4 linked regions of the Homo sapiens genome follow. The protein of the gene in region 2 interacts with the protein of the main gene of each other region in a pairwise test. Each region holds a gene or a part of one and is shown on either strand. Other genes may lie near its edges. The genes, in order: LMO3, NFKBID, EFHC2 and HOXD3.

Region 1 (7,034 bases), on a different chromosome or scaffold from region 2:
AATTTATTTTTATTTTCTCTTTTAGAGTTATTATATTATTATATTAAAGCCTATAAAATTTGTAGTCAGCATAGCAAGCTTCAAATCATTTTAGTTAATTAGCAACTATGGTGAAGCATGAAGCATCACTCTTTCCCAGTAGTTTCATTTTAAACAAATCATCCTCACGTATAAAAATAGCAAATTGCATTAAATTTTATATAAGACATTTTACAGCTTCTTATATAGGAAAAGCTATAAGCAGCTTCCATGGCACATACCACAGCAAACAGCTTTGAATAAACTCTGGCAAGATATCATTCATAGAGATACAAGATACATACAGCCTATATAGACTTAATGCTTAAAGTACGTCACAAAAAGTTGCAGGTTCAAAGAAAGAACAACAAAAAAATTGCCCAGAAGTTGAGTTCCAGTTACATTCTGACATCCTTTATTGCCTTCAAGTTGAAAAAGAAAGTATTTTGGTATTTCTCCTAGTTCTATTTAATGCTTGCTGCAAAACATTAAATAAAAGCATGTAGAATTCCTAATTCTAAGACTCTGATTATGCACTGGCTGGCTACTTTATTCATATTTTTTCAAACTGAAATAAGGCGGATAGATCGCAGTGATGAGTACCTTAAACATTATCACTACAACTTTGCTATTTTTACACAGTCATTTTTAATCTACTTTAGACAATATCAATTTTAAGCTCCAACTTAAAGTACAAAGATGTTTCTATATCTAATTTGTCATAAGTTACTCTTCAAAAAAATAAAAATAATTATAAATGCATTGGATAGATTTTTAACAGATACATTTCTTGGTCTGCCTGGCATATAAATATTGACTGGGTAGATTTCATAATTTCAGTCAGAAACATGTTAGAGGAAGTTTTAAAAAGTCAGTCCTTCTCTTTCTTTAGCTAATGAGTTTCCAAAGGAGGAAAGCAATCCCACAAATGGGCAAATTCTGTCTCATCAGATATGTACATTTTATGTTCCACAGCTAAATGAATGATATGCCAGTCCAGTTCTGGAAAGTGAAAAATTCCACTGTTAAGATTTGATACTTAGTGTACAAACTATGGAAGATTTTTCTTTCTTTTTCTCTTAAATATAGCTACTAGTGCCATAAAGGAGAAAAAAAATGGAAAGACATCAAATTTTCCATAATAATAGTTTCTATAACCCTTAAGAAAATATCTTACAGTCTAAATTATTATATTTTCATATTATTTAATATCTCAAATCATCATTCAAAGAACTTATAAATCACATCATCATTATCACTACTCAAAGTAACACAAGTAAAACACAGATCTTTAAGTCTCATTGCTCATAATTAGGAGTGTTTCTTTCTTTCTGTTTATGGAGGGAGAAGTGTATTAAGAAGCTAAATGTAATTGGCAAAAATATTTTACTTTTCACTGTATGTAAAAAATTATCTGGCCCAGGACAATACTTGTAACCAACAATATATGTGGACAGGCAAATTACTATTTTATTACTTTCCTTATTCTTACTTATGTTCTTAATAATTTAGACATGAAATATAAATATGTAAGTTATTTATGTTCAGTTTGGTGCCTCAGAGAAATTACATAATATCAAAGGGCCAAAAATAAAACAACTTTTAAAATAGAACTTAAGTGATTAAACATTGGTTATATAAAATACAAAATGGAAGTATGCTGAATTTGGAGGAAAATGAGAAAAATTACTTTTAAAGCTCAGGAAAATAACCACAGAATATTACTTGTTCACTGATTATATTACAGATTCTATGTAATTAAATAAACAATTAGATAGTGGCAACTTTAGGTGTACCTTCCTTTTTCCTTTAGCTAATTTCACCCATTGCCTGAAATCATACCTCTCACACAGTAAGCATTTAATAAACATTTTTGAACAACTATTTGTATCTAATCAAAGAAATTAATTTGTAAATAAAATCTGCTTGACTATATTTGTTGATTTACCATACAGAATCAGACTATTTTAATTTGCCAATCAGAGACATATGCAGTTGAACATCTACACAATTTCACTGAGACACATGCTTTCCACATAAAACTAAATACCACATCTGCGGCATAATCTATAACACGTAACACAGTGTTTTACACACACCAATTCTCCACTTCACTTCTGCAATTTTAAGTGTTGATGAAGTTGCCAAATAAGTCACATTATATACAACAAACTTTCAGTTTAAATAAGGGACAAGATTGCTGTTAACAACTTAGTTTGAAATGTTAACAACCGTTAGGCTGTTAACATAACAACTGGCCATTAATGTGGTAATGACCAATTTAAGCGGAAATCGTACTCTGAGAAATGAATATATTGGCAATCAGGACCAGGGTTTATATTTGAAAGAATATTATATACTTTTAATAAGTTAACCACCATTAAAAGTTTGAGCCTATCAGGAGGTAACTGAAAGTTATTCTACAAAAAGCCACATACACTCTTATAGAGATACAAAAACTTCTGATATGAAAACTATTTTTGATAAATGCGTTTTAGCAAAACACTTGAGACTATCAAATATATTTTTACTACCACAAGGAAAAAGAAAACAAAACAAATCTAAGATTACTGTCTTTGCTCGATGCTATGTTGACAGCTAAGAAGCATGTTATACTCACAATATAGGTATTTCCTTGGCAAATTTTTATTTTTGTTTTCAAAAACCCCAGATATTTCAGTTGACATTCTTTCAAGTTTACTTAATTTTTGTCCTTTGGTTTATTAAAACACCTTAACATTGCCCGGGCTATATAAACTCCTTATTTGAAATGGTAACATAAATCCACTTGAGATACTGAAATTACAAACAAATGTAAAAGTCAAAAGGAGTCAAAAAGCTATGACTATTGGTTAGTACAGATAAAGCAAAACTAAAAAGCAGTATTAAATCACTAAAAGCAAATACAAATGCTTTATGTGGAAATGAGGCTCTAATTCACAATGGGCAGAAGAGAAATTTTTATTTCAAAGAGGAAAGTTCAAAGACCGGAGAGTTCTAAAAAAATGAACATTGTACATTAATTTTGATTCGTTGTGCCAACACAATGAGGGAAATCCTGGCTGGAGAGAGTGACTTCTCATTGTTGGCACCTTGCATGTGTTTTACGCACTTGGAACACAGAGAAGTAGTAACAAGTGGCCATAATTAGTCAGGAGGCTGTCAGATGAGGCCGTCCTAAGAGCGAGAAGGAGTAGAATCTGATAAACAGTACCGCTTTCACCCTCTTGTAACTACCATTAATCAAATGATATATTTTTATATCTAAAGATTGGATCTGACTGAAAATAGCTGAATTATATACTAAGAACGACCAAATTCCCTAGAAAACACCTCATCAAATGACCAAGGTACTAAAGGAGTTACCATTGATTGATAAATTTTGTCATAAGGGAAAAAATTCCAAATAAATCGCTTAATGTCAGACCAGAAAAATGATAAATTGTATTAAATATGAAAATCCCAATGATGCCATATATCATTTCTCTAATTTGATAGATCCTACTTTATTAATATAAGTAATTTGCAGCTGAAGTAAGTCACAAAGTTGCCTGAAAAGCAAAATAATTTTCCTTCAGCAGAAATTCTGTGTTGAGTACTTAATGCTGGAAAACAAGCTTTAGTAGGCTTCATAGCTCCATAACCAAGAACACCTGCCTTGTCCTGAAAGCATTCAGATGTTTACAGGTTGGAGAGTGGCTGTCATTTTCCTATAATGATGGAGGTCTTTACTTTGTTATTATCCATAAAACTACTGGCAAGTCTGAGGCGGTTCAATTGCTTAGTTGTATTTTTGAGATTCCCGTTTAGAATGTCATGAGGTGGGGCGAGAGGAAGATGTATCTACACTTGGGGAAAGTTTTCAAAACTCTACAATAAATGCACTAATAGATATTAACCAAGGATTTGCACCTGACTTCCTCTGACACACCTGAAACAGAGAAGACAGCTGAATAACTTTAGAAGACTAAATTCAGGTCCAACTTAGAGGCAACAATTAAACTCTTTTACACAGTCCATTTTTTTCAAGTTGAACTTTTTAAAAATAGTTAAGATATTTTGCCAAATGGCTGATCAATTTCTTTGTGTTATGCTCAACCCCCATTCCCCCTTAAGCTCCAAAAAAAAAAAAAAAAAAAAAAAAGAAAAAAAAGAAAAAATAAGTAAATCAACCTGAATGCTGATTTCGACCAAATACATCCTTGACATTAACTGGCAGTTTCAACATAGGCAGCGCCATAACCAACTGCCTGAGTGTGCAGGCAAGCCAAATTGAAATACTTTAAATATTGTGGTTTGTTGGCTATTCCTTAAGCATTAATTTGAGTAACACACACAGGGCAACGCTTTGAAGGCTGACAGGTAACTTCTTTCAGGAATATAAGCTGGCAGTAAGGAAATGAAACAAGCAAACAAAAAATACACTTACAAAAGTACTTTAAAAGGCATCCAGTCATCACTGGTGTGCAAGGATAATTCCTACCTCAGATAGTCTCTGCGACAAAGGATAAGATTAGCTTTAGTGTACAGGGTGGAGCCCACCTCTCCCAAGCGACAGTCACAGCAGGCACACTTCAGGCAGTCTTCATGCCAGTATTTGTCCAGTGCCTTTAGAAGATACCGGTCCTTGATCTTTCGGTTGCAGCCAGCACAACCTTTCGGCTTGGTGTCTGGCTGGACTGAGAGCATTTGTATACCTAAAGGAAGACAAAAGCAAAAAAGAGAGCTGAGACTACCAGACAGAATAAAAAGACCTCAAACAAGTTAAATATTTAATATTTCCTTATTCTAGGAGTGTTAGCTTTTCTTGTTTAGGGCTATACTGAAATCAAACCCAATTTTGGAAACAAAAAGTCTCAAACTTTATCAAGTGCTTATTAAATCATTCAAAAAGTTACACATGCCAAGTGACAATAATAATAAATTCATGTTGACCATGGTAAATTGACATTATAAATATGAAGTTCAATAACATTAAATAATTTTATAGTATCTTCATTCTCCCCATAGAGCAGTTCCTTTAGAAAGAAAATGTGAGTAAATAACAATCTGAAAAGAAAGCTATTTAACAAATTAATCTATGCACAGTCCCTACAAGTAAAAAAATGAGTTTTGCTTAACTGTTTAAAAATTTCACTTAATATGTGCTTGATGGTGGAAGGAGAGGGCACCTGGTATGGGGTTACACTAACCTTATTCAGCAGTAGAGGTGTTTATAGTTAAGTACACAGAACAGCTACCCAAAAAGCTCACCAATCCTATATTTCTTGCTTGCATCCAAATACTTCTTCTATGTCCTTGATATTTCAAAGTATTCATTGTGTTCAAATATAACATTTATACTCACAAGCATCAGTCAGCACCTATATTAATGGCAGATTACTTAACTATATACTATATGCTTTTATGTAAACCTAAAGTATATGATTATACCATTTATTACCATAAACATGCAATTATTTGTTTTATAAAGGAAAGAAAAAACAATAGAAGGCAAGATCTAAATATATATACAATTATACAAACATATATAAGTAAATATATACATGTTATATGTATACTATGCTAAACATAGAAACATTTATATATTTTAAAGGTATAAATCCATCATAAATAAGGAATCCAGCTGGATTCCATGGGCTTTACAGTTTGATTGAAATCTTTTGAATGAATGGACATTCACCTTGAGTGTCTTCTTATTTCCTAGGTATTAAAACACCCAGCTTTAGCAAGAAGCTGGACCAACTATCCAATGCCTCATATTTATCAAATAACTCATTTTAAGCACTATAAAGTACTGCAGACATCATCAATTCCAAATTCCCTCATTTTACAAATTATGTTACCGAGGCCCAAGAGAGGTTCAGAGACTTGCTCAAAGCTGAAAGACAGTTACGCTATAGACTCCAGCCAAATGGCCTTCTTACAGTCCAGAGACCCTTCTGCTGCATTATGTTTGCTCTCCTAGGCATAAAGTTTTAAACTTGCATGTAGAAGGATACAAAACACCAAATGTGCATGCATTATAGGATAAGAAATGTCAAGCTATAATCTGCACTTTTGTACATTTTCCTTCTCCAAAACAGCTAAACCTCCTCCAGTTTCCTCTGATATCTTATGATGAAGGCTTCACCCCCATCACAACTTTCACAACCTTTTAAAAAAAAAATCCCACTGGTAAGAGACATCAAGGCATCCGCAGAGCGGAATAACTTTTCTAACTACAAATAATACATGAGTTGCACAAAATATTGTTAGGATGTTGAACTTTCATTAGAAAATAACTCGTCTGGTAGAGTTGTGTAGGGAATGGCAGGAAATAAAGCAGAGTAGCTGTTCTTTCTTTCTGCATCATAAGCATAGCTGTAGTCACCGGAGCTGCAGACTAACAGCTGGATTTGTAAGAAGAGCAGGTGGTATCCCTATAGCCTGCTTTCTGTTCCTTTCCTTTGAAGGAGCTAAGGGCCTAGTGTAGATTAATCATAACCCTTGATAGCTCTGCTAAATCTCACTCTCTAGAACTTCTAACAAATGAAGTTTCTTTGATCAGAACTAGTTATCCTCTTCTAGCAAGGTTCCACAAGGAGTGAATCCCATTAATTACAGTGAACAACAGATCCAAGTGCCTGTTAACCACATATCTAGGGGGAAGGGGAAGTTTTGATTTACTCAGTGAAATTCTGGATGGTGTTACTGAAAACACCTAGATAATAAATATTAAGAGAAGCCATTCTAATTAAGCCATCCTAATTAACGGCCATTCTATTAAATTTGTAAGGCTATTATTTTTATTTATCACAAAGCTCAAAGATGAAAAATCGAAAAAAAAAAAAATCCCAGTAGCAGCTAAGTTATATTTCCCACAGTTGTGTTTCTACCATCAAGCATAGAAGGTCAGCTGTTTTATTCAAAATGCTTTGCAACCAAGACAGGGGATACCAACATTTGGCACAAGTAACACTACCCTACTTGTCTTCACAAAATGTTTTTGTTGTGTTGACATTTTAATTTAGCAC
Region 2 (3,123 bases):
GCCTCCTAAAGGCCAGTCCCTCTTGTGTCGCCAGGGTGAGGGTGACAGGATATGGACTTGGCACCCATGGTGGCTGCTACATCCTCCCCCCTCAGGCACATTCATCCCAATATGACCCCTCAGCGGGCATCACAGCCACTCCCCTGCACCAGTGCCCCCAGAGATCAGACAACAGTGGTTCTAGTCCAAATTGAGTTTAAATTTTTTTTTTTTTTTTTTTTTGAGACAGAGTCTCTCTTTGTCACCTAGGCTGGAGTGCAGTGGCACAATCTCGGCTCACTGCAACCTCCGCCTCCTGGGTTCAATCAATTCTTCTGCCTCAGCCTCCCAAGTAGCTGGGACTACAGGCGCATGCCACCATGTCCAGCCAATTGTTTTTGTATTTTTAGTGGAGACAGGGTTTCACCATGTTGGCCAGGCTGGTCTCAAACTCCTCACCTCAAGTGATCCGCCCGCCTCGGCCTCCCAGAGTGTTAGGATTACAGGCATGAGCCACCAAATCTGGCCCAAATTGAGTTTAATAAAGAGCTTGAGTGATGCTCAGATTAGGGAGGGAGTGACCGGGAATGCTGGGGTCTGGAACTGGGGGCCCAGCTGAGCTCTGAATCAGAGAGCAGTGAGACCTAAGGGTCCCTGATCTCAGAGGGTCCCTCCTGTCTCAGGGTGAGGACCTGAAGGGTGTGGGTCCCGGGGAGGGTGAGGAGGCCATTGTAGGAGATTTACTGAGATGGTATCGGGATGCCCCAAGCACCACGTAGGGGGATTACATCTGGGTTTCTGGGAACGAAGAGCTGAGTTAGGGGAGAGAACCCGAAAGATCTCAGTGGGGAAAGGACTAGGGGTGCAGGGTGTTTCACAGAAACAATCAAGGGGCCTCGATTTCACAGAAATCATCAAGAGGGCTCCTTGTGGGTAGAAGAGGGGTATCACAGCACCCCAAATATTGGGGCCTGTTCACCCCTCTGCAGCCATTCTGGGGTTTTAATGTAAAACCCCAATGGCAGGATATTCCACATACATTATCATGGGTTTGCAACATTAGCATACGCTGGCTGTCCCGCAGGACGGTGGGGACTGGAAAATCAGTCCAGGGTCTGGGTTTGAGTCCTAAGAGGACAGGCCTGGCGGCGCCACACGGCTCCTCTTCAACAGCTGCCGGAGCTGTAGACAAGGCAAAGGAGGGAGAGAAGTCTGTCAGGTTGGAAGGAGAGGTGGGGAAGGCACGCCATGCAGAGGGAGGGGCTAGAGAAGAGAGGTTGAGTGGGTCCCTTTGGATTTGAAGATCAGAGGTCCAGAGTCAAGATTTTGGAAGAGCCAGGTGCAGTGGCTCACGCCTGTAATCCCAGCACTTTGTGGGGCTAAGGTGGGCAAATCACCTGAGGTCAGGAGTTCAAGACCAGCCCAGCCAACATGGCGAAACCCCGCCTCTACCAGAGATACAAAAATTAGCCGGGCATGGTGGCACGTGTGCCTTTAGTCCCAGCTTGGGAGGCTGAGGTGGGAGAATCACTTGAACCTGGGAGGTGGAGCTTGCGGTGAGCTAAAATTGCACCACTGCACTCCAGCCTGGGTGACAAAGCAAGACTCCGCCTCCAAAAAAAAAAAAAAGATTTGGGAAGGAGGCCGGGAGTGATGGTTCCTGTGATCCCAACACTTTGGGAGGCCAAGGCGGGAGGATCAATTGAGGCCAGGAGTTTGAGATCAACCTGGACAACATAGTGTGACCCCATCTCTTAAAAAAAAAAAAAAACAAAATTAGCTGGGTGTGGTGGTGACTGCCTGTAGTACCAGCTACTGGAGAGGCTGAGGTGGGAGGATCCCTTGAGCCCAGGAGCTCGAGGCTGCAGTGAGCTATGATCATGCCACTGCACTCCAGCCTAGGCAACAGAGCAAGACGCTGCCTCAAAATAAATAAATAAACAAACAAACAAATAAAAATAAAGATGTGGGAAGAAGGTCAAGGCCTGGGTTCGTACACTGAGAAAGGGTCAGGAAGCAGAACTTCAGTGAAGGGAAAGGGGCTGCTGGCTGGGGGTTCCCACCTGGGGGTGAGGAATGAGAGGGAATTGAAGGGAACAGGTAAGAGGTCAAAGGTCACATCTGAGGTCAGGACCCAAGGTTAGGGGCAGGGGGTAGGAGGTCACACTTGGGGGGATCAAAGGTCACACCTTGAGGTCAAGCAAGATTCAGGGTTGGAAGTACAGGTCACACTGTGAGGTCAGGGTTGGGGTAGAGATCAGAGAAGTCACCATTCTGGGGTAAAGGATGAAACACTGAGGTCAGAGGTCACATTATAGAGTCAGGGTTGCCTGAGGGCTGAAGTCACCTTCCGAGATTAGAAGTCATTCTCTGAAAGCGAGCATTGGGTGGGGCAGGGAGGTCATCCCGCGCCCGCGAGCTCAGAGGCCACTCTACAGGCAGGCTCAGTGCTTACTTACCCCCTCAGGGCCCGGCCCGGGCCGCAGCAGGTGAACGGGCTGCTCATTCTCCAGGTTGCGCAGTGTGGGGTCCGCCCCAGCTGCCAACAGGTGCCGCACGATGGCCTCCTGGGCCGGCCCAGGGGGCAGGGCAGCCGCCATGTGGAGGGCTGTGTTCCCGTGGGCCTGGAAAAGTAAGGGGAGGGCTGGTGGGGATCTGGGCTCAGCTGGCCCAGGCCTCTAAACTGCACTTCAATTTCTGCCTTGTCTACGTCCTACACTTGTCCTTTCACATCCCAGACCTCCCCCGGCCACAGCCACGCTGCATGCATCCCTGTGTCCACGGACTACATGTTCTGGGGCAATCTGTGTCTGCTTCCTATACTTTCCCCTGCAGATCCCACACATCGTCCCCTCCACGTCCACAGCCCCCAGGACCCCTAACATCCCACTGCCCCCCCTACCGTACCCCACACAATCTGCACTTCCCAGCCCCAGCTCCCACCTTCATGTTGACAAAGGTCCGCAGGTCTCCCCGGGGCAGCTCCAGCAGCAGCTGAACCAGAGTGGGGTTGGCAGCCTGCACGGCCAAGTGCAGAACTGTCTTGTTGCTCTTGATCTCCTGAGGGGAAGGGAATGGCAGAGGTCAGGGCCAGCCTCACACCTAGGTGCCCTCCCACAGAATCCAGGAGTCTTTAAAGACCCT
Region 3 (7,609 bases), on a different chromosome or scaffold from region 2:
ACAGAGCAAGACTCCGTCTAAAAAAAAAAGCAGTGACCAATAAATGGTCATACAAATGACCAACAAACGTGTAAAACATGCTCAATTTCATTAGGAATCAGGAAGTACAGATTATAACTACAAAGAGTTGCTATACCCACCAACCAAAATATCTAAAATTTAAAAGACTAACAATACCAAGTGTTAGAAAGAATGTGGAGCAACAGGAACATAAAATGCTGTTGGGAATTTAAGTAGTATAATCACTTTGACAGCATCTACTACAGCTGAACATACGAATACTGTATGATCTAGCAATCCTACCAAAAAACATGAACAAAAATAGTCACAGTAAAACTATTCTTAACAACCCCAAACAAGCCAAATATTTATCAAGAGTAAAATGTATATATAAATGATGTGAAAAACATACAATGCAATACTACAGAGTAATAAAAATGTACAAACTACCTCTATAGACAGCCACATGGACAAATCTAACGAACATACTGTTGAGCTAAAAAAGCCAGTCACAAAAGAATAAACACCAAACATTTCCATTGATAAAAGGTTCAAAGGCAAGCAAAACCTAATTATAGTGATAGGAGCCAGAACAGTGGTTATATCTGGAGAGTAGAGATGGGGTAATGAACAGAAAGGTTCATAGGTAGAGTTGTCACATAAAATACAAGATTCTCAGTTAAATTTGGTAAACAATAAATAATCCTTTCCCATAAACAGGTTCCATGCAGTATTTGAGATATGTATTTTTATTCGCTAAATCTGGCAACCCCAGTCAAGGGTGGTATTTTTGGAGAACAGGTCATATTTTATTTTATTTATTTTTTTGAGACAGGGTCTGGCTCTGTTGCCCAGGCTGGAGTGCAGTAATGCAATCATGGCTCACTGCAGCCTCGACCTCCCAGGCTCAAATGATTCTCCCACCTCAGCCTCCTGAGTAGCTGGGACTACAGGCATGTGCCACCACGCTTGGCTAATTTTTTCAATCTTTTGTAGAGATGAGGTCTTACTATATTGCCCAGGCTGGTCTCGAACTCCTGGGCTCAAGGGATCCTCCCATCTCTGCTTCCCAAAGTGCTGGGATTACAGGCGTGAGCCACTGCGCCCAGCCCCCATATTTAATTTCTTGATATTCATTTTGTGATCATCCATTGTGCATCTTTCTGTATATGTGTTGTACTTCATGATCTTAAAGTTTTTTAAAAAGCAAAAATATACGCAGAACCTTGCAGATTTATTAATATTTCATCCATCCACTGTTTTTCCTTCCCATCCTTAATCACTGCACGTGAGAGCTATGATACTTCTGCAGGAGGCAGGCACTGGTAATCAGAGTGTTGCTGGGCAAAAAGCTGTAGGCTTTACTTTCATTTTTTATTAAAATTACTTTTACACAGCATGCTTCTTTACTTCTGGAATCTGTTTTCATGTCCCGTCTCTCAGGGGCCTTTCTTGTTTGCGTGACTGGCTTAAACTTACCAAAGGGCAATGCTATGCTGGAAGGCCAGCCTCTGCCCATCAACCAAGAAATGCACAAATCAGTGTTCAAAGTTGGACTGACCAGACGTGTAGGGGTCAGAATTCAATGGCGTGAAGCTACAAAGAAAAAACTTGTACTTCAGGGCCAACAACTTAGATACAGACAGTGTTTGGAAACCATAAAGCCAAATACTTCAATCTGCTGCCTGCTTTCTAAAGTTATCAAAGGTTTACACAATTGCCTTGAGTGGCTCCATCTAATTCCCTCCCATCTAATTGGGAATTAGCTTCTCCTGCAGACACAGATGGCTGACCCAAGTGAAGGGTAGTAACCAGTATAAACAAAAGCCTGAATCATTTTCCTGCTGTCGTTTAAATGAGGTGCTATTTATTGGCAAAAGTTCTTTCATGCTCAGGGTTTTTTGTGTTGTGTTGCTTTGTTCTGTACGTTCATCTTCTTTTGAAATGAACCCCTCCAGGACAGGCGCAGTGGCTCAGCCTGTAATCCCAGCACTTTGGGAGACCGAGGCGGGCAGATCACTTGAGGTCAGGAGTCCGAGGCCAGCCTGGCCAACATGGTGAAACCCCATCTTTACTAAAAATACAAAAATTAGCCGGTGTGGTGGCGGGCGCCTGTAATCCCAGCTACTCGGGAGGCTGAGGCAGGAGAATCGCTTGAACCTGGGAGGTGGAGGTTGCAGTGAGCCGAGATCGGGTCACTGCACTCCAGCCTGGGCGACAGAGCGAGACTCCGTCTCAAAAAAAAAAAAAGAAATGAACCCCTCCCAATTATAAATAGAGAAAAAAAAAATCCCTCCAAGTTTGGGTGCCTGTCTCTATAAAGTTTGGGAGTAAACTTTACAGGCTGATAGAACTCTTATCTGCCACCTACCCCTCTTGATAAGTGCCAGATTTCTTCAATTTGATAATTGAAACGGTATCTTTTTTCACACAGGATACTGGGGATAATGATTAGGCTCCTGAGCTGTGGAGACAAGGTTGCTTGAAAGAAACCCAGCTTCACCACTGAGACTGTGTGGTTCTGTGCCTCAGTTTCCTCAATAGTAACTGGGAATAAAAACTACCTAATTCAAAGGGCTGTTGGGACACTGGATGCTGCATAAGGTGATTAAAGCACAGCGCCTGGCACACATTAAACCCCCAATGGTTATCGTCACTATTATTTGTTACCTTTGAGGGTCCTGCCACCTATAAGGACTCTCTCTATATATTTCTAAATTAGGAAAAACATTCAGATGCAGCTGGAGAGATGGGAGAAGCAGCCTATAAAGTTTGGTCCAAGTTGCCACCAACCCAGGGCAGCAGCATGGGGCCTCCAGGAGAGTCTGCGGAGGTGGCCACGCCACGACCCTGCCTGGACCCCAGACTCCAGCCGGGAGCTGTGACCTCGGACGCCCTTCCTACTCACGTTGCGGTTGAAGCTGTTGCCCGGCAGCAGAGGCAGGGCCATGGCGCTCAGTGTCCGAAAATCCAGGGTCCCAGAAGAGAGGGCCCGGCAGGCAGCGGCGCCTCCCGGCCGTGTTGTTTGGCCCCCACGTTGCCTGGAGACGGGAAGCGGCGTCACGGAGGGAGGAGGGGCGGGGGGTTGGCGAGAAGGATCGTGGGGGGCGGGGGACACCTCCGCGGCGCGTACCTCCTCCCCAGCCCCAGTTCCCCTCCACCCGCTTCATCCCCGCACACACTCAGCCAGGTCCTGGTCTCCTGAGGAGTCTTCTCTCTGCACACGCAGTGTGCACACACAAAGATTGACTGTTCCCTGCCCCCGCCGCTTTCTGGTTTAACCCCCTTATAGAACTCAAAGCCTTTCTTGTACTTTCTTGCTTTTCCAATTCTTGTCGCCAACAGTTTTTTGCTATGTGGTTCAAACACACAGCAAAGTACAGAAAGTAATATGACGCCCGTGTGCTCACTGAGATGTTACACAAGTCGATATTTTCCTATGTTGCATAGACATCAGCTTTTATTTTGTAATTAAAACGTTCAAGATGAATCTAAAGCCACATATACCCTGACGAAAACGCGTTGTAATGGTAACCACCGCCTTCAGTTTTTCTTCTGGATATTTTTATATTTGTTGTTTGTTTGTTTGTTTGTTGTTTTAAGACAAGGTCTCACTATGTTGCCCAGGCCGATCTCGAACTCCTGGGCTCAAGCAGCCCTCCCGCCTCTGCCTCCCAAAGTGCTGGGATTACAGGTATGAGCCACCGTGTCCGGCCCATTTTTGTATTTGAACTAAACGTTTGTAAGGCCCAATCAGGGGTGGCCGGGGCGGAGTCAGGTGTCACAAATCGCAACCCCTGTCACTCCATCGTTCACCCCAAGATAGCCGGGCCAGGAACCTCCTCTCCCGACACCTACGTCTAATCCCTCCCTGAAGCCCTAAAGGTTGGACTCGATGCTCTCTCTCAGTCACCACCTCGTCTATTTCAGCTGCGATCCCATTGTTTCTTGCCTGGTTTTCTTCTTTAAAAAGAAAAACAAACACACACAAAAAACTAACTGATCTTGCCTCCAGAGCCGTCGTTTTTATAATTCATGGTGCAGCTGTTACTCTTCTGCTTCAATAATCTAGCCTTCCCGCCGCCTTCAGAAGGTGGTGAAACTCCTTATAGCCTGGTCTGAGGAGCTTTTGTCAGAGGGCACCTACCAATGCCCTCCATCCCTTTCTTTGCCCCCTCCTCCATCTACTCCAGCTCTGAGAAACCACTGGCAGTTTCTAAATCAGGCTCTGCGGTTTCTCCTCTTGGGGCTTTTGCAAATAACACTATCGTCTAGAAACACCCTTCCTTCCTATCTTTCACATAAGTAACCCCTTCTTGTCTTTCAGGACTTGAGGCCAGCGTGGGAGTGGGGCATAGAAGGTATTGCCATTTCTTCAATATATTCTTTCACCTTCTTCCTGCCGCCTCCATCTGTATTTGGTGTCTATTCTGATCGTGGCTTTCATCCTACTACATTGTAATTACCTGTTTACTTGACATTTCTTTAAATGCCCCCAAATACCTCCAGGGCAGGGACTGTATCTCCTTTTTTATTCATCAACAATATCCATTATTGCTTCTGTGTTTATAAATTTTACACTCTAAATTTCTGCTACTTGCTTTTTTTGCCTGATTCTGTTATTGAGGCCAGGCGCGGTGGCTCATGCCTGTAATCCCAGCACTTTGGGAGGCCGAGGCAGGCGGATCAAGAGGTCAGGAGGTCGAGACCAGCCTGGCCAACATAGTGAAACCCCGTTTCTACTAAAAATATTAGTAGAATATTAATATGCTACTGGGAGGCTGAGGCAGGAGAATCGTTTGAACCGGGGAGGCTGAGGTTGCAGTGAGCTGAGATTGCTCCACTGCACTCCAGCCTGGGCAACAGAGCAAGACTCTGTCTTGAAAATAATAATAATAAAATTCTGTTATTGAGATTTCTACACATTGACACATGTAGTGTTCATTAATTTTAAACGCATTGTATGATTATACCACAAATTGTTTAACTATCTGCTCTCATCTGTTGATGACAATTAGATTGTTTCCAATTTTCCACTAGTTACCAACAATGCTGCAGTGAGCGACTCTGCCTGTTCCTTTGGCAATGATCTAGGGCACATACTGAAAGATGGAATTACGTACATATCTGAGTGCATGGCTTCATCTTTACTAGATTTTGCTAGATGATCTACAGACAGATAAACCAATTAAGAAAGTCCCCTTCCCCGTTCATCCTTTCAACAATAGGTATTACCAAATTATATAATTTTGGATAATCATCTGAATAAGTGTGAATGGTATACTATTGTTATTTTAATTTGTTTCTCCCTAATTCTCCCTAAGCAGTTGGTCATGTTTTCCCATGGTTGTTACTTTCTCCTGTGACTCAGCTATTCATATCCTTTGCAGATTTTTCTCTTCGGTCATTTGTAGTTTTTTTTTTTTAGATAGATAGATAGATATAGAGATATTCTGGATACTAATCCGAGGCATAGCAAATATTTTCTCATTGTCGTTTGTCTTTTAACTCCACTTATATAGAGTTCTTTATTGTACATAAATTTGTTACTTTACTCAAATATATCATTCTTTCAGTTATGGTTGGTGGGTTTTTTGATTTATTCTACTTTTTATTTTTTGAGATGGAATCTCACTCTCTCACCTAGACTGGAGTACAATGATGTGATCTAGGCTCACTGCAACCTCCGCCTCCTGGATTCAAGTGATTCTCCTGCCTCAGCCTCCTGAGTAGCTGGGATTACAGGCATGCACCACCACACCTGGCTAATTTTTGTATTTTTAGTAGAGACGGGGTTTCACCTTGTTGGCCAGGCTGGTCTCGAACTCCTGGCCTCAAGTGATCCACCCACCTTGGCCTCCCAAAGTGCTGGGATTGCAGGCATGAGCCACTGCACCTGGCCTGTTTGGTGTTTTGTATGTGAATTCAAAAATCTTATACTACTCCAAAAGAACAGTTATTCTCCTACATGTTCTTACAAACATTTTTAAAATTCCCTGTTGCTTTTTAAATTGAAATAATTTCAAGCTAGTAAAAAGTTGCAAGAACAGTCCAAATAACTCTCATTTATCCTTTCCTCAGATTCCCCAATTGTTTTATATTTTACCACATTAATTTTGTCATTCTCCCCATATATATCTTTTACATTTTAGAGTTAAGTTGCAGATATCATGCCCCTTGACTCCTAAATACTTCAGTGTGTATTTCCTAAGAATAAGGACAGTCTCTTATATAACTGAAGTGCAATAATCAAAATCAGAAATTTAATATTAATACAATACTGTTTTCTTTTTTCTGAGACAAGGTCTCACAATGTTGCCCAGGCTAGAATGCAGTGGCATGATCATGACTCACTGCAGCCTCCACCTCCTGAGCTCAAGTGATCCTCCCACCTCAGCCTCCCAAGTCGTTGGGACTACAGGCATGTGCCACCATGCCCAGCTATTTTAATTTGTTTTATTTTTTGTAGACATGGGGTCTCATTATGTTGCCCAGCCTGGCCTCGAACTCCTGACCTCAAGCAATCCCATCTCGGCCTTATAATACTATTTTCTAATCTAAAATACATATTCAAATTTTGCAATTGTACCAATAATGTCCTTTTTTTTTTTTTTTTTTTGCAGACAGGGACTTGCTGTGTCACCCAGGTGCAATCACGGCTCACTGCAGTTTCTACCTCTTGGGCTCAAGCGATCCTCCCACCTCAGCCTCCCTAGTAGTTGGGAATACAGGCACACACCACCATGCCCGGCTAATTTTTTTTTCTTTGTTGAGACAAGGGTCTCACTATGTTGTTCAGGCTGGTCTCAAACTACTGGCTCCAAGCAATCTTCCTGCCTTGGCCTCCCAAAGTGCTGGGATTACAGGCATGAGCCACCACATCTGGCCTATAATGTCCTTTTTTAGCAAAAAGAAAAATAATTTGTTTTGACCCAGAATCTGATGCAACAACACACATGGTGTTTGATTGTCATGTCTCGTGGTTGTCATGTCTCTTTATTCTCCTTTAATTGGGAACAGTTCTTCCATCTTTCTTCGTCTTTTGTGACCTTGATATTTTTGAAAAGGATAGGCCATGGCTAGGCGTGGTGGCTCACGCCTGCAATCCCAGCACTTTGGGAGGCCGAGGCGGGCGGATCACTTGAGGCCAGGACTTCGAGACTAGCCTGGCCAACATGGCGAAACACCATCTCTACTAAAATACAAAAATTAGCCGGGCGTGGTGGCAGGTGCCTTTAATCCCAGCTACTCAGGAGGCTGAGGCAGGAGAATCGCTTAAACCTGGGAGGTACAGGTTGCAGTGAGCCAAGATCATGCCATTGCACTCCAGCCTGGGCGACAGAGTGAGACTCCATCTCAAAAAAAAAAGAAAAAGAAAAAGAAAAGAAAAAAGCCTAGGCCAAGTATTTGGTAGAATGTTCTTCAATTTAGGTGTGACTGATGTTTCCTCATGAGGAGATTCAGTTTATGGCTTTTGGACAAGAACGCCACAGGAGGACTGTTGTGTCCTTCTAGTTCATCAAAGGAACAGGCACATAATGTGCTTTTACCATCAATGATGAGGTTCTCTTTGATCACTGGGCTAAGGTGAAATGTGCCAAGTTTCTGT
Region 4 (7,769 bases), on a different chromosome or scaffold from region 2:
CGGGAGCTGGAAATTTTAGAAACTGCCTCTCTTAGAAGCGTCTCTGGAGACTGCCGTGGAGCAGCAGAGGCTGAGGGTACCCCTAGCTTCCCGGGCCCGCGGAGTACTCCGCAGCCTCATGCACCCCGGCAAGGCGGCCTCCCCGCCGCGGAGGCCGACGCCCAGCTCCTCCCAGGGCGAGGACCCGCTCCGGCCCAAAGGTGGAAGCCGCGACTCTCAGCTCTGGCCAGTCACCTCAGAAAACCCCGCCACCACCACCATTCCGTGGCTCGTTCCGCGGACTCAGCAGCCGAGTCACCGCCACTTCTGAGACAGAAAAGGCGCGTAGCAGGCGACCCGGACCCAGAGCGACCTCCCCTCTCTGATCCCTGAGCACCCCAACCTGGTCCTTCGAGGCCTGGAGCCGCCTAGGCGCTGAGCCACTGCCCGCCGTGATCTGTGCGACTCCAGGTCTGGGCAGGACCCGCAGATCCCACAGGCCCAGCAACCGCCAAGCCGCGACTTCCCGCTTCCTGCGGCGCCTCCAGGAAGGCGAGGAGGACTGCGCAATGAGTCCTGGCTGGGCTAACCTGGGGGACAATGAAACTTATATTTTAGAAATATTAAACCAAGACAGATTCCCACCACTCTCCGAGTGGCTGGTGGGAATGATTCTGCAATGTGGGAAAAAAGAATTAAGCGTGCCAGCGCCAGCAGCGGACCTCCTGGCCTGTAATGAGCGCCCAAGACCCTCCCCCAGCCGGGGCCACACTCGGGAATCCCGCACCACGGGGAACTCTCCACCCTGTCCCCGAAGTTTTGGTTTCGTTGCCAGCTCTGCTCAGCGGCATCAGGCACAGTGAAATGCTCTGTTGCTGATTGCAGGGTCTGAGACCGGTGAAAGTGCCCAGCAGCCATAGAAGAGCCCCAGAGGAGTGGGTAAGGTCCACCGCATCCCCACTCCAGAGGCGCAGGAATGTCCTGGAGGCCCGAGCCCCCAGAACCGTCTACGAGCCCATCCTTTTGTTCACCTGGCCGGGCCTGGCCAGAGGCCCACTCGGGGCGTCTCTCGAAGCCGGATCGTGGGTGACCCCAGCCCACCCCCACCCGGAGGACCCCGCCCCCTAGCCTCTTGCCAGAGGCCGACCTGACGGCCAGCAGCAAGTGTTAATCCCCAGCCAAAGAGGGGGGCTGCTTTGCGGGAATTTGTCTCCAGGAAAGGATCTAAGCCTTCTTCAATCGGAGCATATGTTCATAGAGCAATAAACCGGAAAGATTTACAGTCCTCGCCCGGCCCCCAACAGTCTCGCACCCTTTCAGGAATTACTTACGATGATTTATCACACCAACCCGGGCAATTGTCACACTGATAAAATAGCCCGGGCCAGTGCCCGCCAAGCCGGGGCCTTGGGAGGCTGTTGGCTGCCGGGCTGCCAGCAGGGCTGGGGAAGCTTTTTGTGGGTTCCTCTCTGGGCCTACAAGGGGATATCTAGGTGGGTTGGAGTGGGTTGGAGTGGGGGGGGTGGGAGGGGAGACGATTCTCATTGAGAAAAATGCAAGCAGCTCAGAGAAAGCGCCTGGAATCTGCGCCCGAGTCACTCGCAAAGCACATAAACATTTGTCATCTTTGAATAATTGAATTAATGTGTTATTGTTTGAATGTATAATTCATAATGGGGGAAACTTTGTTTCTGTCCTGACGGGGAAATATACACACACCAAAAAATAAATGAAAACACACACACACACAAACACACACGCACACATAATCCCAAAACAACCACCACGCGCAGCCAGCCCCTGCTCGCTGAAATCATTCTGAAAGCCAATGGAGGTATCTCACAGCAACAAGAGGGAAGGAGGCGAATGAAGAGGCGCCCGGGTCGGAGCTGCAAGCTGGAAGAAAAGAATGCTCGCTACTGCCCCAGCCCACGACCCTGGCAAGCTGGGGATGGGGTGGAACGGAGCGGAGTGGCTCTTAGGACACCCAATTTTCTTGGAGTGCCGGTGAAAAAAGGCAGAAACGGGAGCGAGCAGAGAAACAGCCTTCTGCAGCCCGCACTGGCCTCTCCCCCATCCTCCTTTCCCCAGGCTTCCCGTCGCCCCGGGGTCTCCCACTCGGGCTGCAGGGACTTCTTCTCGCGTTTATTTTAGCTCTTCCAAAATAGAAATAAAAAATACAAACACAAAAATAAACGGGAAAGAAGAAGAAACTCGCTGGGGTGACAGAGGCAGCAGAACTTGGGTGGGGAGAGAGGAGCGGGGGGAGAGGCAACTCGGAAATCATTATCTGTTGGTTAAAACCTGCCTGGGGTAAAATTTCAACTCGATTTTATAGCCTTCTATTATGACGCAAAGAAAAATTTACGACCCTCGCTTGAAAAGAGGGCCAGGGCCTTTTCTCACCGGTTTAAGAATAGGCGGCAGATGCCGTGACAGCGACCATTGTTCCTGGTAGACACAGGCGACCAGGCAACCTCGGCCCGCGTGCGCCAGGCGCGTCCGCCAGCCGGGCCGGTTTTTTACAACTCCTGTTGTCTTGGAGCAGCCCGCGTGCACCTCGCCCCTCACCCCTCGCCCCCTGGCACCCTAGCGCCTCGCACACACACCCTCTCCCTATCTCTGTCTCTGTCTCTGTCTCTCCCTCTCTCACACACACAAGCGCGCGCGCGGACGCACGCACACACACACACACTCGGCCGCTCTCAGTAATTTTTCATAAGTGCAAAGCTTTGCTGAACCAAAGGTCACCATCCAAGCCACTAACAACTTCTCGCCGGCGCGCAGTTCCAAATCAGGAAGCAAAGGGAACTATTTGTCAGCGGCCGTGACAGCTAAGTTCATTAAGGATTTAAATCTGATGAAATAAAAGTTGCCAAAATATTTACCTGCGGCCGCGCTCCCGCGCCCGCCGGGGGCCGGGGGTGGAGGGCCGGGGGCACCGCGCGGCCCCCCTGGACGGGTGATATTCTTGGGATCCCTGCACTTTCCAAGTCGGAGAGAGCCCTTTGCGTGGCAGATTAATGACGACTCCGTGTTTCTTAAGGGACGTGCTGAATTAATTATTTCGCCAATCACGTGGTCGGGACTTGTAGAAATCTATTCTTATCATCTTCCTCGCACTTAGAAAATTCTCCGGGTTATGAAAGGCCCTCCCCCGGCTGCCAGCGAGCCCCGGCCGCCCAGCCCGGCGCGGGGGGCAGGGAGGGCTCCCCAACATGGCGGGCAGGCGGGCGGGAAGCGCCGTCCGCCGAGGGTCCCGATTTACTGTACTCTATACTCAGCGGGCTCTGCTATGGACTCGCTTCCTCCTCATCCCTGCCCGCGATTCAATACACACAACGGTATTGATGTATTGGTGGGCACGGGAGGAGCCATTAAGCAGAAGACGGGCAGAGGACAATCATAAAATGTGTCTGAATATTTAAACTTCTGCCTGCGCACTTATAAATACACATGTCCACGCGTCTGGGGCAAGCCCTTCCATATATTAAGGACAGATGTCTGATTTTATGCATTCTGCTCATTTCCTGTCTGGAACAAGCACCCCCATCTATTTTGGGACTCCTGTCTTGGCCCCTTCTTCAAGGCGAGGCCAAGATGTAAAGAAGCCCTTGCGGTAAATGTAGTGCAGGGCACTTTTTATAGTGGGGAGTGTTTATTGTTGCCTGAGGGGTGGAGGGGGCGCGGAAGAAGGAGGGGCAGGTGCTGGAGTCCCCACAGGAGCTTAACAGTACTGGAAAAGTAGAAGCCCAAGAGTGGAGGCCCGGGGGTCAGGTCAGAGCAGCCACCCAGGAGCCTCAGCTCGGCCCAGAACCCAGCACGCTCTCCCTGCCTTAGGGGTGGGGGACCAGTAAGGTGTCTCATCCACCACTTCCCAAAGACTTCCTCTGAGGGCTTCCAGACCAAAAAGGTCTGGGGCCTGGCCCGGGCCCAGCAGAATGCCAACCTGGATCCCCCTATTAACCTGGGCAATTACTTTTTCTTCAAAAAATTAACACCCAACACTCTGTACCCTGAATTCAACCCCAGGCTTCCCAATGCTCACAAAATATGGTGGCCAACTGGGAGTGTGTGTACATTAAGGAGGTGGTAATAATAGAATTGCTAAGCCTTACATGGTTTAACCTTCACACTTTAGGCACCCCCCAAAAAATGGTGCCTAATTTATTGCAGAAAATAATAACTTGTTTATGTTAAATGTTAGCTTTTAGAAGACTTAACAAAGGATGAATGCTTCTGTTAAGGCACCAAACAGGAGGGAGATTTTGCTACACCTTTTATTATTTTAAATATAGATCAATGAATTACATCAAAACTACAAGCAACAATTAGTATAAATAATACTTTAATCAGTGGCAGCAAAACATTGGTCAATTCTATTAAAAAAGCATCTCGTGTGAACAGACATCATGGGCTGACTGACAGTGTCATCTCCCAACAAAAGGCTGCGATGGACAAAGTGAGATGGGAGTCAGAGGAGCAATGTCCTCAGCAAACACTTCACTCTCCCCCTCCCCCAGTCAGGACCCCAACACGGTTTTTGTTTTTGTTTTTAAAACACCAACACAAACACTTCTGGCTCATATTTAAAGGAACAAACTGGAAACAAATAATAGCAAATGGGCATTGGAGCTTTTCCACACCTAGCTTTCTCCAAAGCACGTTCTCAGATGGAAACCCATTTCCTTCCCTGCCCTAAGTGGTTACGGGGCCCTACCCCTTCCCTGGCCCACTCCTGTGGGCCCAAATGGATGCTGGGGTCCGACTGGGACCTCAGGGTTGGGGGCTGCACTCTGGGCCATCCAGGCTCCATTAACATTTCAAAAGAATCCCTCCAAGCTGAGAAGGAGAGCTGAGACTTATAAACAAAGAAGTTGTTTCTCTGATTAAGTTACTTTCCAAAGTAGTGGGGCTATGTTTGAGAAGGAGCTTGGGTTTTCCTCATGAAAACATGTTTCTTGGCTTTCCTCTGGGGCAGGGATGCAGTCAGTTAAGCCTGTGTGGCATTTGGTATGAAACTGGGGGTGAGTAACCTGAACTTCTGAGGTGGGGGAAAATCTATACAACAAATCTCTATTATATATATGTAATTGGATGTTGTGAAAATATATACCTTTTTCCCCTTCTCAAAGAGAAGGTTCAATGTATAGACAGATTTGGGTTTTAGGAAAGCAGCTTAGCAACTTTCCAACTTGCCTAAGGATAGCGGCTCCTTTCAAATGGTACATCCAAAGACTGCTCTCCATGTTAGAGAGGAAAAAAGAAGAGAAGGGTAGTTAGAGTCCAAAAGGTTAGGGGTTTAGAGGTCAGTCCTCCCGGCTGAAATACAGCTAATCAAATAGAAAATTTGTCCTCTGGATGAACCTGATTCTGTAATTTACCCGAACTTCGGTAAAATACCTTTTCAGCTTCTCAACGTGAGGGCGTCAGAAAAAAGACGTCTTGACTATGTATGAACTCTGTGCTTTTTGTCATAGAAACAATGATGTGAATAATGCACGAATATCCATCTTTAATATCCCGACGTGGTGACATTCAAGTATTGCCATGTGCAAGTCTGAGAGCCAGGCTCACCCCAAGGAGAAACAAAGAGCAGTCCCCAGGGTCTAATACAAAAGACCAAGGCTTGGAAGACACTTCAGAGAAGCGGAATTTCAGCCTAGGGACTGCAGTGAATACCTGCCCTCAGCTCTCAGGAGACACAGCCAAAGAACAAGCCTACAGAGAAACTCTTTTTTCCCTCCCACTTAAATATATTTTTTAAATTACAACAGAAACCTTCTAAAGTGTTTTTGAAGTACTGAAAAAAATACCCCCCTTCTGGATCTTAAAATTAAATTTTAAGCTTATCCTTTCTCCCTTTCCCACTTTGGTCACTTTTTGATAGCTACAACCTTTTTTGGAGCCTGAGGCCTTGGGAAGACTGGTTTCATCTGAGTATATGAACTCTGGCCATTAACTTTGACTTCTTCCTCCTTATGCTTGAGGGTCAGCATTTTAGAAAAATGAACTTTGAACCCTTCCCAGGAGAGGCAGAAGAAAAACGACTAGAGGACATCTCCCCTGTTGAGAGTGATTCTTTAAAAAACCACTATTCTCAAGGCAAAGACGAGTGCTTGAAAACTTTTATACTTTTACAAATTCTGCTTCTAATTAATGAGCTGAGGAAAACTTCCTTAGATTTGGTTTTTAAAAAAATTAAAACTTCAGGGGGAAAAAAACTCTAAGGCTAACTTTTGTGGACTTCTAGATTCAATTAGGGTTTTTTTTTTTTCCTTCTTAAAGCAAGAGTTCCTCACCTTCCCACTTTCTCCCCACTGCACAGCCCCTCCCCTACACAGGCCATACACTAATTCCTGTAAAACACTGCTATATGAGGGTATTTAGGGCATTTGGAATCCAGTTGGAACAGAAAATTCAGTCATTATCTAATGACCCAGTGCATAGAGGTTTTGTTTTCTTTCCCCAGAAGGAAAATGTTGGACCATTTGTTGGTTTTTTTCCCTTTCCTTTAATCACCCAGAACTGGTTGTAAGCACAGTGCTGAAAAAAACACATGTGGAAATATATTTTCAAGAATGCAACTTTGAGTGAATCCTTTGCTTCCTTCTGGAAGGGTTAAGGCCCCCCTATATACATTTCCAGAGAGTGGGGAGGGGTGGAGTTCAGAAGTAAGTGCACATATCTCTGATTCTGCTCCCTGAAGTTCAGCCCCTTTCACCTTTTTAAGATTTTTGGCATGAAGGTGTCAGTTATTTCTGTACCACATTTCCCAACAAATAAATATTTAAGCAAATATCTAAACATAAAATAACCCATTTTTACTTCCTTCTTAGACCCATTTCTTTGGAGGTGGGGCCACTGGGAGCAAAATATATATTTTTTAATCACATGAAATTCCATAGACAACCCAGAAAGTCCAGAAATCCTGACCCAGCTCTCTGGCTTCCACTGAAAGCACCTAGCACAGGGGTGGCCAACCTTCTGCCTCAACTCCCCCACATTATTAAGCCACAAAGCACCCTGGAGGGGTGGAGTGGGGGAGAATGTCCAAATTCACAGTGGGATAAAGCATCCAACCTTCATTTGCAAATTCAAAATCCAAGAGCGGTGATTTTCATAAGTTTAATGACTCGCCAAGATTTTATGTTCTCAGTAGCTCCTGCCATATAATATACTTAGAGAGAGAATCCCGCCCCCCCTCCCATCCCCATCCCGCTCTAGGGAGGGGGCTGCCCTCGGGCAGGATGCTAACCTAGTCCGAGGGCGGCCTGCTTGTCCCAGGTCCACCCCACAGTACCTTAGAGCCCAGCGAGGTGACAGCAGGCCCGGCCTGCCCCCGCAGCTTCGGCTCAGCCTGGTGCGCAGGGAGAGATGGGCCCAGGGTCCCCACTTCTATAAGGTCGTCAGGTCCGTGTGGTGGTCTTTGGCCATCGGCTGTAAATGCTGGCTGGGGGCGACTGAGGAGGAGCAAGATGAGGAGGAAGATGAGGACGATGACCTGCCTTTAGTGTTGGGCAGCTTATGATCTTTTTTCCACTTCATCCTCCGGTTCTGGAACCAGATCTTGATCTGGCGCTCCGACAGACACAGGGTGTGAGCGATTTCAATCCGACGGCGCCTTGTCAGATACCTGTTAAAATGAAATTCTTTTTCCAGTTCTAGGACTTGCTGCCGGGTGTAGGCCGTTCGGGACCGCTTGGGTTCCCCACCGGTGTAGTTGGGGTTCACTGCGAGACAAAACAGACAGGACAGGCAGGTCAGCGCCCGGCCACTAGTTAGGCCCC

What was found.
Region 1: the proteins of NFKBID (region 2) and LMO3 interact in binary tests that used the Homo sapiens proteins (3 or more experiments, as listed by UniProt).
Region 3: the proteins of NFKBID (region 2) and EFHC2 interact in binary tests that used the Homo sapiens proteins (3 or more experiments, as listed by UniProt).
Region 4: the proteins of NFKBID (region 2) and HOXD3 interact in binary tests that used the Homo sapiens proteins (3 or more experiments, as listed by UniProt).

What each region holds. Positions count from the first base shown.
Region 1 is NC_000012.12:16,596,154-16,603,187, forward strand, and holds part of LMO3 (LIM domain only protein 3), read right to left. Parts: intron 4,716-7,034; coding exon of another isoform or gene 4,708-4,715; coding exon 4,502-4,707; intron 2,815-4,501; coding exon of another isoform or gene 2,742-2,814; exon of another isoform or gene 2,639-2,741; intron 1-2,638.
Region 2 is NC_000019.10:35,887,452-35,890,574, forward strand, and holds the end of NFKBID (NF-kappa-B inhibitor delta), read right to left. Parts: intron 3,040-3,123; coding exon 2,923-3,039; intron 2,604-2,922; coding exon 2,439-2,603; intron 1,162-2,438; coding exon 1,108-1,161; 3' UTR 501-1,107; downstream 1-500. UniProt on the Homo sapiens protein: Regulates the expression of IL-2, IL-6, and other cytokines through regulation on NF-kappa-B activity. Functions in the regulation of inflammatory responses.
Region 3 is NC_000023.11:44,340,639-44,348,247, forward strand, and holds the start of EFHC2 (EF-hand domain-containing family member C2), read right to left. Parts: upstream 3,035-7,609; 5' UTR 2,951-3,034; coding exon 2,909-2,950; intron 1-2,908. UniProt on the Homo sapiens protein: Microtubule inner protein (MIP) part of the dynein-decorated doublet microtubules (DMTs) in cilia axoneme, which is required for motile cilia beating.
Region 4 is NC_000002.12:176,152,551-176,160,319, reverse strand, and holds the start of HOXD3 (homeobox protein Hox-D3), read right to left. Parts: upstream 3,014-7,769; 5' UTR 2,868-3,013; intron 2,853-2,867; exon of another isoform or gene 2,386-2,852; intron 1,070-2,385; exon of another isoform or gene 383-1,069; intron 1-382. Other genes in the region: HOXD4 (homeobox protein Hox-D4), read right to left, coding at 7,378-7,712. UniProt on the Homo sapiens protein: Sequence-specific transcription factor which is part of a developmental regulatory system that provides cells with specific positional identities on the anterior-posterior axis.